Linked DNA regions of Homo sapiens: region 2 is linked to region 1. Evidence: fine-mapped expression QTL. Tissue or cell type: whole blood. Region 1 holds a variant in brackets; the other region holds the start of a gene. All regions are shown on one strand. Distances are from middle to middle.

What was found. PIP is the estimated chance that this variant, and not a neighbour inherited with it, causes the effect.
Region 2: VPS41 starts here. The variant in region 1 is fine-mapped to the expression of VPS41 in whole blood (TOPMed, PIP above 0.99). The same link has a PIP of 0.9 or more in neutrophils.

The regions. Positions count from the first base shown.
Region 1 is chr7:38,851,733-38,859,846 of GRCh38, reverse strand. The region is part of intron 4 of VPS41 (VPS41 subunit of HOPS complex); the gene reads left to right. Among named protein-coding and RNA genes, the nearest start is that of VPS41, 53 kb to the left of the region's middle. The variant C/T (reference allele first, on the strand shown) is at 4,705.
Region 2 is chr7:38,905,901-38,914,014 of GRCh38, reverse strand. VPS41 (VPS41 subunit of HOPS complex) reads left to right here and starts at 4,824. Exons shown (of 29, transcript NM_014396.4): 1 at 4,824-4,861. The coding sequence starts at 4,841. RefSeq lists an enhancer at 4,717-4,816.

The sequences.
Region 1 (8,114 bases):
AACGTGACTTCAGAATTCTTATAAAATCTTAGATTCCTTTTAAATTCCCACGATATTTATGCCCATATAACCACATTAATCATAGTATAATCATGCGTCGTTTAACAGTGGGATGCATTCTGAGAAATGTGGCGTTAGGCAATTTTGTCATTGTGCAGACATCATAGCCTCTACTTACACAGACCTAGGTGGTACAGCCTACTGTACACTTAGGCTGTATGGTATAGCCTGTTGCTTCTAGACTACAAACCTGTACAGCATATTATTGTCCTGAATACCATAGGCAATTGGAACACAATGGCAAGTATTTGTGCATTTAAACATACCTAAATATAGAAATGATACCATAAAAATATGGTATAAAAGATGACAAATGATACATCTGTACAGGAGACTTATCATGAATGGAACTTACAGGACTGGAAGTTGTTCTGGGTGGGTCAGTGAATGAGCAGTGAGTGAATGTGAAGGCTTAGGACAGTAGTGTACACTACTGTAGACATTATAAACCCTGTACACTTAGGCTAAACTCAATTTATTTAAACATTTTCTTTCTCCACTAATACATTAGCCTTAGCTTACTGTAACTTTTTTACTTTATAAACTTTTTAATTTTAAAACTTTTGACTTTATAATAGCACACCTTAAAGCAAGCACATTGTACAGATGTACAAAATATTTCTTTATGTATTTATTCTATAAGCTCTTTTCTGTTTAGTTTTTTTTTTCTTTTTTACTTCTAAAACTTTTTGTTAAAAATGAAGATACAAACACACACATTAGCCTAGGCCTACCCAGGGCCAGGATCATCAATATCACTGTCTTCCACCTCCACATTTTGTCCTGCTGGAAGGCCTTCAGGGGTAGTAACGCACATGGAGCTGTCATCTCCTGTGATAACAATGCCTTCTTCTTGATACCTCCAGAAGGACCTGCCTGAGGCTGTTTTATGGGTAACTTCTTTTTTTATAAGTAGGAGGAATATATTCTAAATACCAATAAGAAATATAGTATAGTAAATACATAAGCCAGCAACATAGTCATTTATTGTCATTATCACGTATTATGTAGTACATAATTGTGTGTGCTAGACTTTATATGAGTGGCAGCTGACTAGGTTTGTTTACACTAGCATCATCACAGACACGTGAGTAACATGTTGTGCTGTGCTGTTACTAGGCTGCAGTGACACAGAGTGTTAGGAATTTTCCAGCTCCATTATAATCTTTTTTTATTTAAATGTTTAGGAAAAGATAGCTTGTAAAGCATTACAGTCTTATAGGACCACTGTAGTCTATGGTGTAAACCAAAAATAAAGTTCTAAGCTCCTCAGTCTACTGAATGGACTCCTCTTAGGATTCGTGAAAAACTAGTTCAGGCCATGACGGGAAGGGGGAGTCAGACATGCCTCATTATATTCTCTTCTTTTTGGAATTCAGGCACAACTGACCGGCATTAACATTAAGATACAGATCTTAAGACTGACAAAACAGACTCTTTGTAGTGTGAAAGGAAATAAGATACCAGATTCCAAACTGACTCTAATATAGCATCACATGACAGATAGCAAGCCCTGAAAGAAGTCAAAGTATTTTGCCCTAATATATATTTCTTTGGCATATTTTGAAATAGCTGTGCAAAGCTGTCTCTTTTGGGGAAAATTTACATTCTGTAGAGAATCCCCTTCCCTTTCCAGGTCTTTTTCTGATCCTGAAGAGAGTAGCTTAAAGGTCTGAATAGGAAACGTTTGCCGTATATTACCTCTAAGGGTGCCACCTATAAGACTTCTTCTACATAGTAAGAACCTTGGTCTTCACAACTCCTTATCGTAACCCAGGTACTCCTTTCTGCTGATTCTTTCTGCTGATAACTTAACTCTTTCAACCAGTTGCCAGTCAGAACATCTTTGAATCTACCTATGACCTGTAAACCATCCCTCTTTCCTCTCATCTCCTCTTTGAGTTGTCCCACCTTTCTGGACCAAACCAATATATACCTCACATGTATTGATTGATGTCTTATGTCACCCTAAAACATAAAATCAAGCTGTAACCCAACCACCTTGGGCACATGTTCTGAGGACCCCTTGAGGCTTTGTCATGGGTCATGGTCCTTACATTTGGCTCAGAATAAATCTCTTCGAGTATTTTACAATTTGGCTTTTTAGTCAACAGTGGGTATATGTGGTCTCTTGTTGACCAAAATGTTGTTATGTAGTGCATGACTGTAGTTACTTTTTCTTTAATAGCCTCCAATTTATTTAAGCATTTTAATTTAAAACTTGTTAATTAAGGGTACTTATGTTGAAGCAGTGATCAAATTATTGTGCCATGTCTCTGTTAAATATTTAGGAGCATTATGCCATGTGTTTTAAATATTTATTCCTTTAAGTGTGCTAGTGAGAGAGCAAACAACTTGCTGATCAAACATAAATTTCTACTGTTCACCTTTATGTGTTTTTCTTTCTTTGCTAGAAATAGAAAATGATGAGGTTTTGCTGTAAGGCACTATAGTAAGAGACATTATATAAATATTTATAAAATGGATGATTACAAAAAAAGGAGATTAAAACAAAACAGGAGCTTAGTGGCCATTTTGTGTTAAGATAAATATCAAATTTTTGAAATTAAACTCTTGAGGCAGAGGTGGGTTGATGATTCTCCTTGTCAGGTAGCAGAATCTATTGGTATTTCTATTCCTGTTTTTGATTTGAGATTAAACTAATGGACTGTATTCCTTAGTTGCTGATACCTTTCGTGTTCATGTGCTGATAAAAACCCAGACCTCTGTCCATCTAACCATTGTGTCTCTGAGAACATTTCACAGTTCTTTGTTACTTCCCACATCAAGTCCTAACTATCTAGCTAAGCATTCCAGACCCTGATCATTTGGTGAAACCCACCTTTCTAATCTTAGTTTTAATTTCTTCCCTCTCTAGTAATTTTTATCTGCTCACTACCTTCTAAATATTGCCATGGGCTTGCCTGTTTCTAAGCTTTTGATGACTTCTTTTCTCTCTAGAATACACTTCTGTGAATCTCCATTCTTTCTGCAAGGTACTTCCCCTGGATTGTAGCCCTGAGGTGTTTCCTTCCTGTAAACTCCTATATTACTACTATTTCACTTGTAGTGTGGCCCCTCATAGTGTCAGTACCAGCCTCACATTCCTATTTAACGTCTTGGAGGATAGTTGCCATGTCTCCTGGTATACTTCTCTCCTCTTCCCCACCCTTTCTCTTTTCTCTGCTGCCGTTTGGTATCCAGTAAGTATATATTGGCTGATAATATTGTTTTGAAACATAACCATGGAACTGGTGATTTTCTGTTACTACCTTTCAGGAGGCCTCTGGGAGCTGGTTCTCTGTTCTCCTGTGTATTATTCTACCTTCACTTGTCCATTGGATGTATAATTAGAAATTTTATACTGAGAGCTACTGTAGACTGAATTCTTCCCCACCTCCTAATTCATATGTTGAGGTCCTAACCCTCAATGTGATGGTATTTAGAATTGGGGACTTGGGGGGTAATTAAATTTAGATGAGGGCCAGGCATGGTGTAAACTCAGGAGGCTACGACAGGAGGGTCACTTGAGCCCAGGAGTTCTAGGCTGCAGTGAGTTATAATTGCACCACTGCACTCTCTAGCCTGGTTGACAGAGCAAGACTGTGTCTCTTAAAAACAAAAACAAGTTAAAAACAATTTAGATGAGGTCATGAGGGTGGAGTCCTCAAGATGAGATTAGTGCCAACATAAGAAGAGACAGGAGAGACCTTCCCTTCCTCCCCCTTCCTGCCGGCCATATAAGGACACAGCGGGAAGGCTGTCTGCAAACCAGGAAGAGAACCCTCACCAGAATGTGACCATACTGGCAGATTGAGGACCTCCAGTCTCCAAAACTAGGAGAATTTCTGTTGTTTAAGCCACTCTATGATATTTTGTTATGGCAGTTCAAGCTGACTAATATAAGATCAGAGTCTTAAATCTTACTTTTGGAAAGTAACCCTTATGTTCAGCAGTATTTAAGTTTTTAATATATACTCATACATTTTCTAGTTGCTATGGGTAATGTATAAAGTCATCAAAGTTTAGAAGCTAAAGAGACTTTAAAAGATCATTCCAGATGCAAACGGTATCAGGGAAGGAAGTGTGTAAATTGGGCTTGAGCTGTTCTGGTTATGTATTCCATGCCCACTACTCTTCCACCCTTATCTCCTTGTACATTCAAGACCTCCCTTATGTAGCGAAACATTCTTATTAGGGCACTTCCCTAACCTGAGTTTCAAAACATGTTTTTGTGACTGGTTCCTCATCTGTGAGTGATGATGGTTTCATTTTTCTCCCTGGACTTTGGGACTCGACCATCTTTTGGACTGTATTGCTGACCTTTTGTTGCTTTCTTTGGCTGCGAAGAATTTATTTCTAATATAAATCAGCTCCTCTTTTCTCTTTGCTTTGGATTGATGTATGAGTGTCTGGAGGATCACCCATCTCTTTTTTCATGTTTCAGCAAAAGAAATGATCATTTTCCTTCTCTCCTCTCTCTTTGACAGTATCATCGTGAAGATTCAGTGTTCCTTTAAGCTGCTTAAATTTCATTTTTAGTATTCACAAACACCTTTTTTTTTTTTTTTTTTTTTTGAGAGGGAGTCTCACTCTGTCAGCAGGCTGGAGTGCAGTGGCGCAATCTCAGCTCACTGCAACCTC[C/T]GCCGCCCAGGTTCAAGTGATTCTCCTGTTTCAGCCTTCCCAAGTAGCTGGGACTACAGGCATGTGCCACTATGCCCAGCTAGTTTTCATATTTTTAGTAGAGACAGGGTTTCATCATGTTGGCTAGGATGGTCTCGATCTCTTGACCTCATGATCCGCCCACCTCGGCCTGCCAAAGTGCTGGGATTACAGGTGTGAGCCACCACGCCTGGCCCACTTTTTTTTTTTATCCTTTACATGGCTTAACCATCTCCTTCTTTGTGTTACCTCCACTTTGCTTTTTTTTTTTTTCTCCACTTCTTGAACGTACGGTACTTTTGTCACAATTATATGCCTCAATGTCATTTTCCACATAGAATGCTAATTTCCTGAGGACAGTTTGTGTAATTTATCTCTGCATCATCAGTGCTCAACATAAAAGCTGGTGAACTGATAGAAATAAGAAATTGATAGAAGTTCGCTGAACTAATCCATAGTTCCAAATCTGCAGTTTCACATATTTAGACTATTTTCCAGATAATCAAGGTTTTTTTCATACCTTCCTCTCCCATATCAGGATTATTGTGTGTACATTATAGGAAATTGTATGGCCATGACCATCTCTTTGACAGTTAATACAGATGCCATACATTCATTATTCACCTAAACAGCCTAACTCTTTTGGGCTTATTCATAATGTGGCCAGTGTGATGTTGGGTGACTGTTCATTGAAAGAATCTTTGGAGCAGATCTATAAACTTAAGCTATGTATCCTTGAACAAAGAACCCTGCTCTACTCTTGGTCTAATGGTACTCACTTATCGACCTGAAGCAAATACCATCTGTAGTATGCTGTTCTAGATGTGGCATCATTAATTGGCAAGCAGGGCATGTATCTTTTTGATATGATCAAAGTGGTTCATTGTTGGCTCAAGTGTGCCAGTGCCTGTAATACTTGTTTAAGACTGATTGACAGGTCTCAGATTCTTGTGTGTTTAAAGAACTTGTTTTCTATATTTGAACCCCGTATTTTGAGTGATAAGAGATGTGTCAAAGGAATTGAAAATTACTTAAATGGAAATCATTCTAACTTCTGATAAATGATGCCAAGGCAAGTCATATTTCCAGTTGTCTGCATTAAAAAATAATCTCAAGTTTGTGGGTTAAGTATTTATAGATAACTTGATAATTTTGATGGCTTCTACGCACCAAAGTGGCTAAGAAAACATGGTCAGAATTAAGGATGCTTCTCTCTTTTAGAGTAAAGTGTCATACTTACTGAATGTTTTAACATCTGACCCTTCAGTGGTAACTACATTTAGGCAAATATCCCTTAAATAGCTAAAACTGAAAATATTCCTTCACTGAATGAAATTACCCTGGTATTTCACATATTTCAAAGTCAGGGTTGAAGTAATTTTAACTTTGTGGAACATGACTCTGAATTGGGTAGTAGACTGGGGCTTAGTTGTCTGAAGCCTTTGGATTTCATTCTTCAGTACAGGGTACTCTCAGTTCTGGTGGTTCTTTCTTTGGGGTTCAAGGCCATTATTGCAAAGTAAGAGCTTTAAAAGGATTATGAATAAGGTGTAGACCTAGGGGAGGAATCTCCACCTTTGCAGTTGGGAGACAGGGAACCTGTAGAAAGTGAAATTTGAGGTGAATCTGGAAAGGTGAATGTGTATTTTCCAGGTTGTTAGAGTGGAGTTAAGACAGTGATACTTTTTTTTTTTTTTTTTTTTTTTGAGAAGGAGTCTCGCTCTGTCGCCCAGGCTGGAGTGCAGTGGCGCAATCTCAGCTCACTGCAAGCTCCGCCTCCCAGGTTGATGCCGTTCTCCTGCCTCAGCCTCCCAAGTAGCTGGGACTACAGGTGCCAGCCACCATGCCCAGCTAATTTTTTGTATTTTTAGTAGAGATGGGGTTTCACTGTGTTAGCCAGGATGGTCTTGATCTCCTGATCTTGTGATCCGCCCACCTCGGCTTCCCAAAGTGCTGGGATTACAGGCGTGAGCCACCGCACCCGGCCACATTCTTCTTATGAAACAGGGAATCACCAAAGGGTGAGGAACATTTACCATGGACTTCTTGTCTTCATGTATATTGTGTTAATTATCTAGTAGTATCTTGGGAGTAGGGGAGTGGAGAGGAAAGAATGGATGGTGAGATGCAATAGGAGCAAATTATTTGGCAGGTTTAGCCAAAGGACCAAAGGAAAAAGAATGGAGTGTTTTCAAGGGAGTGTCTTTGTGGTGACTGACTTTGGAGTTCAGAGTATTTAGGGAACTAAATGAACCAGAAGGATGATGGTAAATCGGATGTCATGGACCAGATATGTGGATAAAGTATGAGTGTCTGTGCATATGGTTTAACAATAAATAATTTTAAGCTTGAGTTTGTTTTGTTAATAATAGACTTCTTAGTCTCTGGGAACCATGACAGGGTATACTTCAAAATGGTAGTGTATACTTCTTTCTTAAACAAGCTCTGTTTTTCTGTTTGTGTAGCTTTGTTTTATTCACCTGCTCTAGAACTTATTTATTTGGCTATAATTTCTAATGTTTTTCATTTAATAGGATCATGATATATTAGGATAGTTGAATACTTAATGGATATTTTTCATCTAGCCACTCAAGACATGAAGTTCTTGTTACCCACACAAGAGGTTGGTTTGATTGTTGGGCTAGGTATCAACCCAATGACCACAACCAAGGAGATTTAGTAAGATTTAGTATTTAGTAAAGGGATTTTATTGCTTGTAACAAGTAGGGAGAACACCAGGGATAGTTCTCAAAGCAGTGTCTCCCGGAGCTGGGGACTGGGTCAGGTTTTATAAGCATATGATAATGAGGTGTGATCTGACTGGATCTTGCAATGAGGTGATGCCGGGAGGTCTGATCTTACTGGATCCTGACTTGGGGTGATGCTAGAGCTCCATCTGATTGGATCCTGGATCCTGTTAGGTGGTGTTCGCTTCTTAATTCATCCTGCTCTTAGATTCCCCCTGTGGTTGCATGCTTGGTTCATCTGGGCATGCTCAGGTTACATGAGCTGAGGGTCCATGGCAACTGAAAACGCACAACTTTGTCACCCAGAAGTTGAACCATGTTGTTCTGGTGCGGCTATACTTCCACAACATTCTTGTCATTTGGTTGCCCAGTCTTTATTTTATACTTCTATTAAGATGAATTTCATTATTTCCATGGGCAGCTATTAAATGTTAACACTTTAGCTTTTTTTAAGTTTAATTTATAGCAAGGAAAAAATCATATTAAAACTAATTAAAATGGAATAATGCATACCACTAAATATACCTTTAGAATGGCTAAAATTACAAAGACTAATCATACCAAGTATTGGTTAGGATGTGGAGGAACTAGAACTCTCATACACTGCTGGTGGATGTACGATAGTGTAACAACTTTGGAAAACAG
Region 2 (8,114 bases), 54 kb before region 1:
AGATCAACTTTCCCACAAAAGATGGGTAAAGAGCAAGAGTAGAAAGGACAGAACAAAGTTGAAAATGGCCAGTAAATTTATGAAAAACATCCCCTCATCAGAAATCAAAGACATACAGTTAAAACAAAAATTAAAATATTAATACTATTTTCCCCAAGCTAAATTAATGAAATGTGTAAAAAATGATAATATCTAATGTTTGATGGTAGGAGGGTTTAGAGCTCTCATATATAGCTCACTGTAGAATAAATTGTGAGAGACTGAATATATAAAGGGGCACTGGCCAGACCAGATATTAAAATAGAACTCTGACCCACAGTCTGAAGCAAGCTGCAGCAATTGCCCAGGAAACCAAGCCATTGTCCACAATAGAAAACCCAGGAATCTAGCCTGACAGTCAAAACTGCCATCTCTAGTAACAATCCAGGAACCTTAACTATAACCTCTGAAACAATCAGCCTAAAATGACCAGGACTTTATTGGTAGTTGACAACTTCCTTAATTTTTACTCCCACTTCCAACTAAGAGCAACCAGAGAAAACCAAATATCCACCCCTACCAATCACATAGGTTGCCCCACTTCTGGTTACCCCACCTGCAGCTTTCTCATGCCAGCAGCCTCCAACCAGGGCCTACCTGAAGCCTTCCCTTTTCCTACCTTCCCACTCTTGTGCCTGTGTTTGAGTCTCTGCCACAGCGCAAGTGCTGGTGGCTGACTCCCTTTCTAGAGTAAGCTCTGAATAACTCCTCAATGGCATTTCTCATTTGGATGATCTTTATTCCTGCAGTTGATACCACCTTGCATTATAGCATTTTCCAGAATTATGCACAGGGATGTTAATTAGATGTACTTAAAGTATACAACAAAATAGAATGATTATATACATTACTTTTCATACGATGGAATTATAATGTGAAATCATGTTTTATTAAAATCATGTTTTAGAAGAATATTTTACAAGATTGTTATTGGGAAACAATCTTGAAATATGACTAAGTAAAAAAAAATGACAAAACTTGGTAATATGATCTTTGTTGGACAAGTTTTTAAATAAATACAGAGAGACAGAGAGGGGAAAGGAGGAAGAGAGAGAAAAAAGAGAAGAAAAAAGAAAGGCATATATCCAACAATCATAATCTAAGTGGAGAAATCATGAGTGGTTTTAGAATTTTATTTTATAATTTATTGTATTTTTCCAGTTATCTATTATGAACACATAGTACTTTTGTAATTAGAAAAATGTTATTAAGAAAATCTAATGTGGTTGCTCAGGGAAATTTCCAATAAGCTATATCTTAAAATGACATTTAGAATATTAGAAGGTAACAGGTTTCAGTAGGTACAGTTTTGGAAAAACTAAACTGCAAAATAAGCTGAGGCTGGCCAAATTTGCTAAAGATAACATCAATATTCTTTTAGCTATTTGGTACAGTTAATTAAATAAAGGCTAAGATTGTAGCTTGGAATTAGTAGTGTAATGTGGTGTAAATTTGCTTGTCATTAGCTGTCACACCTGTAGATTGAGAAAGGTAGCAATCTAAGAAGGAATGGAAGCTGAAGATTGGGAAAAGAATCTACAACACATCCCCTAATTAGCAAGGGCATAAGAGTGAATTATTTTAACTTTGTCCACTTTGCCGATTTTTCAAGTTTCCTGAATTTATAAATGCTATTTAATAATGGAAAATATTAAAGCCGTTCATATTGTTTAAGCAATGAAATAATGCTATTGTCACGAATAAAATGGCTATAATTTGAGTTAGTAAACTGTTTCAGACCTACGAAACAAACATATGAGACAGATCCTTGAAACCAGTGAGCCACTCTACAAATATAAGGTCTTAGGTCTGTTTTCTGAAGTCTATTAACAATTTTAGGTCCTATAGACTGAGAATGAGAAGTTGAATCTTACCTTTACCTCCATCTGCATTTTTGTTTTAGTTTTAGTTTTTGTTTTTGTTTTTGTTTTTTGAGACAGAGTCTTGCTCTGTCACCAGGCTGTAGTGTAGTAGTGTGATCTTGGCTCACTGCAACCTCCGCCTCCCGAGTTCAAGCGATTCTCCTGCCTCAGCCTCCCGAGTAGCTGGGATTACAGGCGCACACCACCACGCCTGGCTAATTTTTGTATTTTTAGTAGAGACGGGGTTTCACTATGTTGACCAGGATGGTCTCGATCTCTTGACCTCAGGGGATCCGCCCGCCTTGGCCTCCCAAAGTGCTGGGATTACAGGCGTGAGTCACTGCGCCCAGCCCTTTACCTCCGTATCTTGAAGTTGGGAGAGGGTGGACTGAGCAGGTGATTTGACACAGAATCAGTGACTGTTAGGCTGACTACTCCTCAAACTTGAAAGTATATGCATATGACTGAGGGATACTATTAAAATCCAGATTGTGGTTAAATACATCTCTCAAAGGGCCCCAAATTCTTCATTTTTAACAAGCTCCCAGGTAGTCTTTGGACTACACTTAGAGTAGTTGGAGAATACAAGACCACCTAGATAAGAGAGCCTCAAACTCTCACTTCACATGAGCAAATGGGATTTGGAGGTCACATGTGAATTTCATCCTGTCCACTGTCCCAGCACGAACCTGCTAGTTCATAGTAGGTTTCTTCCTCTAATTCACCTTTCCATACCTGTGTCTCTTCACTTTTCCAGTCTCTCCAAAAGGAAAGAGGCTCATAATACTTTATTGTAATCAAGAGAGTATACTGAATGCGGAACAAACTTGGGGAATTGAGAGTTTCTACGGTTAAATGAGCAGAGGAAAACCTATAAAGTCTGGCTATATCTTTAATAAGACCCATAACACCCTTCTTGAGAAAGAGAATAAACATTCTCATTCCAGAAAAGTAGAAAGGCCAGGAAGGCCCAGAGTGGATGGCCTTCAGCTTTGCTTGCTTGGGCTGCTTGACTTCTCACCAAAATAAAATGGAACCATAAAACAAAAATGACCTTGTGGTTAAGACAGTGGTAATAATCCCTTATTTTCCTTCTTCATCCCAATCTCATCCATTCAGCATAGAAGAGGAGATTGCCCAGTTGGAGAGGCTGTAGTCCTAGAGGTTTATGGGTGGCTGTCACTCATAACAGAAAAGAGAAAATTGGAGTTTGTGAGGAAAGTCAGAAAAGTGGAAGAGCTCATTTTATTTCTCTTTCCCGTGGATACTCGACTGAGGGCTTCCACAGTCTCTTTGGTCTGTATTAAAGTTTTTCTGGGATCTGGAGTTCATCATGAGCAATGTTTGGCCCTGGGCTGCTTTGCAAGAGATTTTAGAAACTCTTGGGTTAGGTTTATACTTGCCCTAGGTTTATACTTAGGGCATTGGGTGCTTGCTTATGGATTTCTTTTTTCTTTTTTCTTTTTTTTCAGATAGGGTCTCACTCTGTTGCCCAGGCTGGAGTGCAGTGGCACCATCAATGCTCACTGCAGCCTTAACCCCCACCTCAGCCTCCTGAGTAGCTGGAACTACAGGCGCACACCATTATGCCCGGCTAATTTTTGGTATTTTTTGTAGAGACAGGGTTTTGCCATGTTGTCCAGGATGGTCTCAAACTCTTGAGCTCATGAAATCTGACTGCCTTGGCCTCCCAAAGTGCTGGGATTACAGGTGAAAGCCACTGCACCTGGCTGCTTATAGACATTTAAATGCCTCAGGGTGGTCTATCCTGTCGGCTGAGTGATTAGCCCACTGGAAGAGGAACCCCAGCAAGGCTTGGAGGAAGAAGATGGAGGTAAGGCTGTTTAGGCCCTGGGGAGAAGACAGGTGTCTCAGAGATGATGTCACCTTGGCTTCTGGGCCATTGAGGAATCATGGGTTGAGCAAGCTACAGACAGAGTACTGAGTCCATGACTTCCTACTGGGTCAGAGTCAATGAGGCACAGGGAGTCAAAAAAGGTACTGAGGCAATCACCACATGCTGCCATTTGCAATGCCCTCTGCTGGTCACCAGCTACTCCAGTGAATGGAAATTGTAAAATGTCTGTCTTTGGACAAGGTGCTGCAGATTCCTGAGGGTTAAGAAACAGAATTCATAATGTTCAGAAACATGGAGAAGGAATCAGTCATTCTGAAGGCTGGAAGTAATACAGTGGTTGTGCAGATTTTGACCAAGGACAACTTCATATTGTGTCTTCACTTGAACATTTACCTATTGAATATCCTCAACAAAAGTTTAACAATTAATTTATTAAACAACAGAGATTTTTTTTAAATCAATGTTCATATGACAGGAGAAGACAAAGTAGCAAGCAAAAATAATGATATTATTTGTTGGCGTATAAATTTTCTCTGACTCTCCACTGCAAAGACTGCTTTATATTCACTGAATATACTTAAAAAAGAGAGAGAAAAAAGGACAAGAACACTTTTAGAGTAAGCAGCATTTGGCAATCACAGAGACTTTGGCATCAGGCAGGGCTGAATTCTATTACTAGTTCTGCCTCTTACTAGCTGCATGACCTCTGAGCTACGGTATTCTCCCCTATAAATGGGGATGATAGTAGGAATTGCTGTGAGGATTAAATGAGATAATTTATGCAAAGCTATAAACCCAGGGCATGACATAGTAAGTGCTTAATAAACACTAGAATAACTAGAGAAACAAGAACAACAATAAAATAAGCTATAGTATTAGCAATGGTTATGTTCACATCCTTCAAAGCAGAATTCCATTGAGTTTGGAGAATTGGCAGCAGAAATGAACCCTAGCAGGTCCGTCCCCTAGAAGAGATTTCCAGGCTCAGATGAAGCTAAAACTACATTTCCCAGAAGGCCCTGGGCCAAGTGTGTGGTTTCCTCTTATTTCCGGGTCTGTCAGGTGACTCTCCCGTGGCGCCATGGCGGAAGCAGAGGAGCAGGTAAAGGGTGCAGGTGGTAGTTGAGGGCACAGGGATATAGAGACTAGGGTGGGCTGTTTGGGGAGGGTGGAGTGGAGTGGGTGGAGGTGCGGAGCTGCTGGAATAGCGCAAGGCAGGTCCGCGGCAGGGCGGGGTGGGATGGCGAAAGTTGGTTTCGGGGAGCAGAGAGGATGCCAGCCCCGGGAGGGCACCTAGGGAAAGCGCTCTGACACACCCCCGCGTTCGGGCTGCCTTTCCTCGGGCCCCATCCCTGTGGCCTTTGCCCAGGGAAATTTTGGCATGAAGGCAGGCCCGGCTACCTCAGGGACTGACTGCCTGTGGGAGGAGGAAGAGAGGCCGGGTGACTGAAATTTAAGTTGCTTTCCACTTGAAGTAGGACAATAAGAACTAGGAGAGAGTAGACGATGAGTTTTGTTTTGTATCTATTGGAGTTAGGTACAGAGCTGGAGCACTGTTGCGGTGCAGCAGGGATTAAATGCATCCGTTCTGGAGCAAAAATGCCTGGGGTCCAAGTGCTGGTTCCTTTTCTTACCCAATGTGCTACTTTGAGCTACTTATTTAACTTTCCAGTGTGAGATGGGGGTAATAATAAGGCCGTCCTCAGAGGGTGGTTTAAGATGGAGAGAGGAGTTTATACACAAAGTTAGAGTACTTAGAACTGTTGGGCTTAGTAAAAATTAAATGGGATTATTTGTTGCTGGTAGTATCCAGTCAACAACTGGCAACGTGGCACTGAAGTTTAGGGTAGAAATTGGTGATGGGAATATGAATTATTTTCATATAGCAGTAGTGGTAATCACACATTTTATGAAATGACGAAGTAAAATAAAAAAGACAAAAAAGAGAAGCAGACCAAAAAAGAGGCTAGAACTTGGGGGAGATAACTTAAGTTTCCATTTCCAGTGTTATTTCAGTTGGATACTGTTTTTCTTCACAAGTTAACAGGGCTGTCAGTTGCAGTCATTGTCTCTAAACAGTGACTTGATGATGGGCTGTTTAGTATCATAAGAGTCATTTACCTAGTTCAATAATTTTTACTATTTTCAACATACTTCATTTGTTTTTACTTCATAGTGAAAATTTGTTCTGTATATATTTTATATATGCCAATAATTGAGACGTTTGACTAGGTAGAAATTTGGTTTGGCTGGTCCTTGTGATAACAAGATAACAAAGTCTCTTATCTAACACTAGAGACTCCTATTTCCATTCTAGCAGTTCAAAGGAAAACACTCATTAAGAACATATCATTTCATGACTGCCATTGCTCCTTTGAATAAGGGTGAGATTGTTTTTCACATTGTGCATCTTTATTTCATGTTGAAATGTTTGTTTTATGGTTTGATTTGAAAGCAAAAAACTGAGTTTCATATGTTCTTAGATATAGTGGAATAGAAATGGAGAGAGTTGCTCCTAGAAAAACCATTGTTTTTTCTTCCATTGAAAAAAACCTATGAAATATTTACCACTGTTTAGTGCAGAAGAAGAATTTAACAAAGTTGTCTGATATAAAAATGACACATACAAAATTAGGGATATAATAATGTTTCACATTTGTACATTATTTTCTAGTTTTAAAAACCCTTCCATATTGCATTTGGTCTTCCCAAAAGAATTCTATGAGGTAAATGTTTACTCTCATACATGGGTGAAACACCTCTGATATTCTAGACTTTCCAGGGGCTTCTAATCTTATTCAGAGGAAAAGCCACAGCCATTACGGTAGCCTGGTTGTCCCACAGGACCTTGACCCAGCTGCCCTTAGCCACCTTTTCTTGACCTCATTTTTCCCACTACTCTCCTTCCCTTCTGTGACTCTGCATCAGCTGTACTGGCTCTCTTAGTCTTCAAAAAGCCAGGCAGGTTCCTATCTCAGGGCCTCTTTGCTCATGCTGTTCCTTTTTGAGGAACCCTGATATTTACAGGCTTCCTCATTTCCTTCATGTCTTTGTCCAAGTGTTCTTTTTCATTGCGACCTTCCCTGACCATGCTTTGAAACCTTCCTGCATTATTTTTCCCTATAATGTGCATCACCGTTTGACATACTGTATTATAAAATTTGTTTTTTTTTTTTTCCCTGTATATTTCTGTGTACCTCTTACCACAGAGCTTGGAACATCCTGACAAGGATTTGTTCACTGCTGTATGTCCAATACCTAGAATATTGCTTGTTACTTAATAAATTTGTGTTAAATGATTGACTTTTACTGATAAACAAATTGAAATTCAGGCAACTTGAGTAACGTGCTCAGGCTTATATCTATAATATAATAAATCTCCAGTCCTCTGTCTCCATAGCTCATGACTTTTCACTAGAATACCCTACCTTTTTAAAATATATGTAAGAACCTAAATCTAAATAGTTTTTTTACTTTATGAAGTAGAATTAGCCCTTTCCATTTTAATGATTTTCCCTCAAGCCACCATTCCACTTTGATGCTTTAACAGCCAATATGTAGTTGGAGTGGGCATTCTCCTCTCCAGTGGTGTCAGTATCTTAAAAAGACTAGTCGTGGACCAGGCACAATGGCCCATACCTGTAATCCCAGCACTTTGGGAGGCCAAGGTGGGGCGATTGTTTGAGCCCAGGAGTTCGAGACGAGCCTGGGCAACATAGCAAAACCCTATCTCTACAAAAATTACAAAAATTAGCCAGGCATGGTGGTGTGTAGTCCCAGCTACTCGGGAGGCTGAGGTGGGAGGATTGCTTGAGTCAAGAGGGTCGGGGCAGCAGTGAGCCATGATCGTGCCACTGCACTTCAGTCTGGGCAACAGAGCAAGACCCTGTTTAAAAAAAAAACGAAAAACAAACAAAAAAAAACCCAGCAGTCTGTTGTAAATGGCTGAAAGACACATTCACAAATTGTTCAGTTCTTTTTTTTAAAAGAAAGTAAGTAATTGTACCTAATCTTATCCTTTATAGATTAAAAATGGTTAGGCTTTTCTCTGATTTGTTTTTGCATTTCACAGTAGGAAGCCATTGAAATCTGATGACGGTAGTAGGGCTTTATTATACCATTTTTTTAAAGCTAAAAGTGTATAAAAATGGAGAAAATAGGGCTGCGTGCGGTGGCTCATGCCTGTAATCCCAGCACTTCGGGAGGCTGAGGCGGGTGGATCACCTGAGGTCAGGAGTTCGAGACCAGACGGGCCAACATGGTGAAACCCCGTCACTACTAAAAATACAAAAAAATTAGTCAGGCATGGTGGTGGGCGCCTGTAATCCCAGCTACTCGGGAGGCTGAGGCAGGAG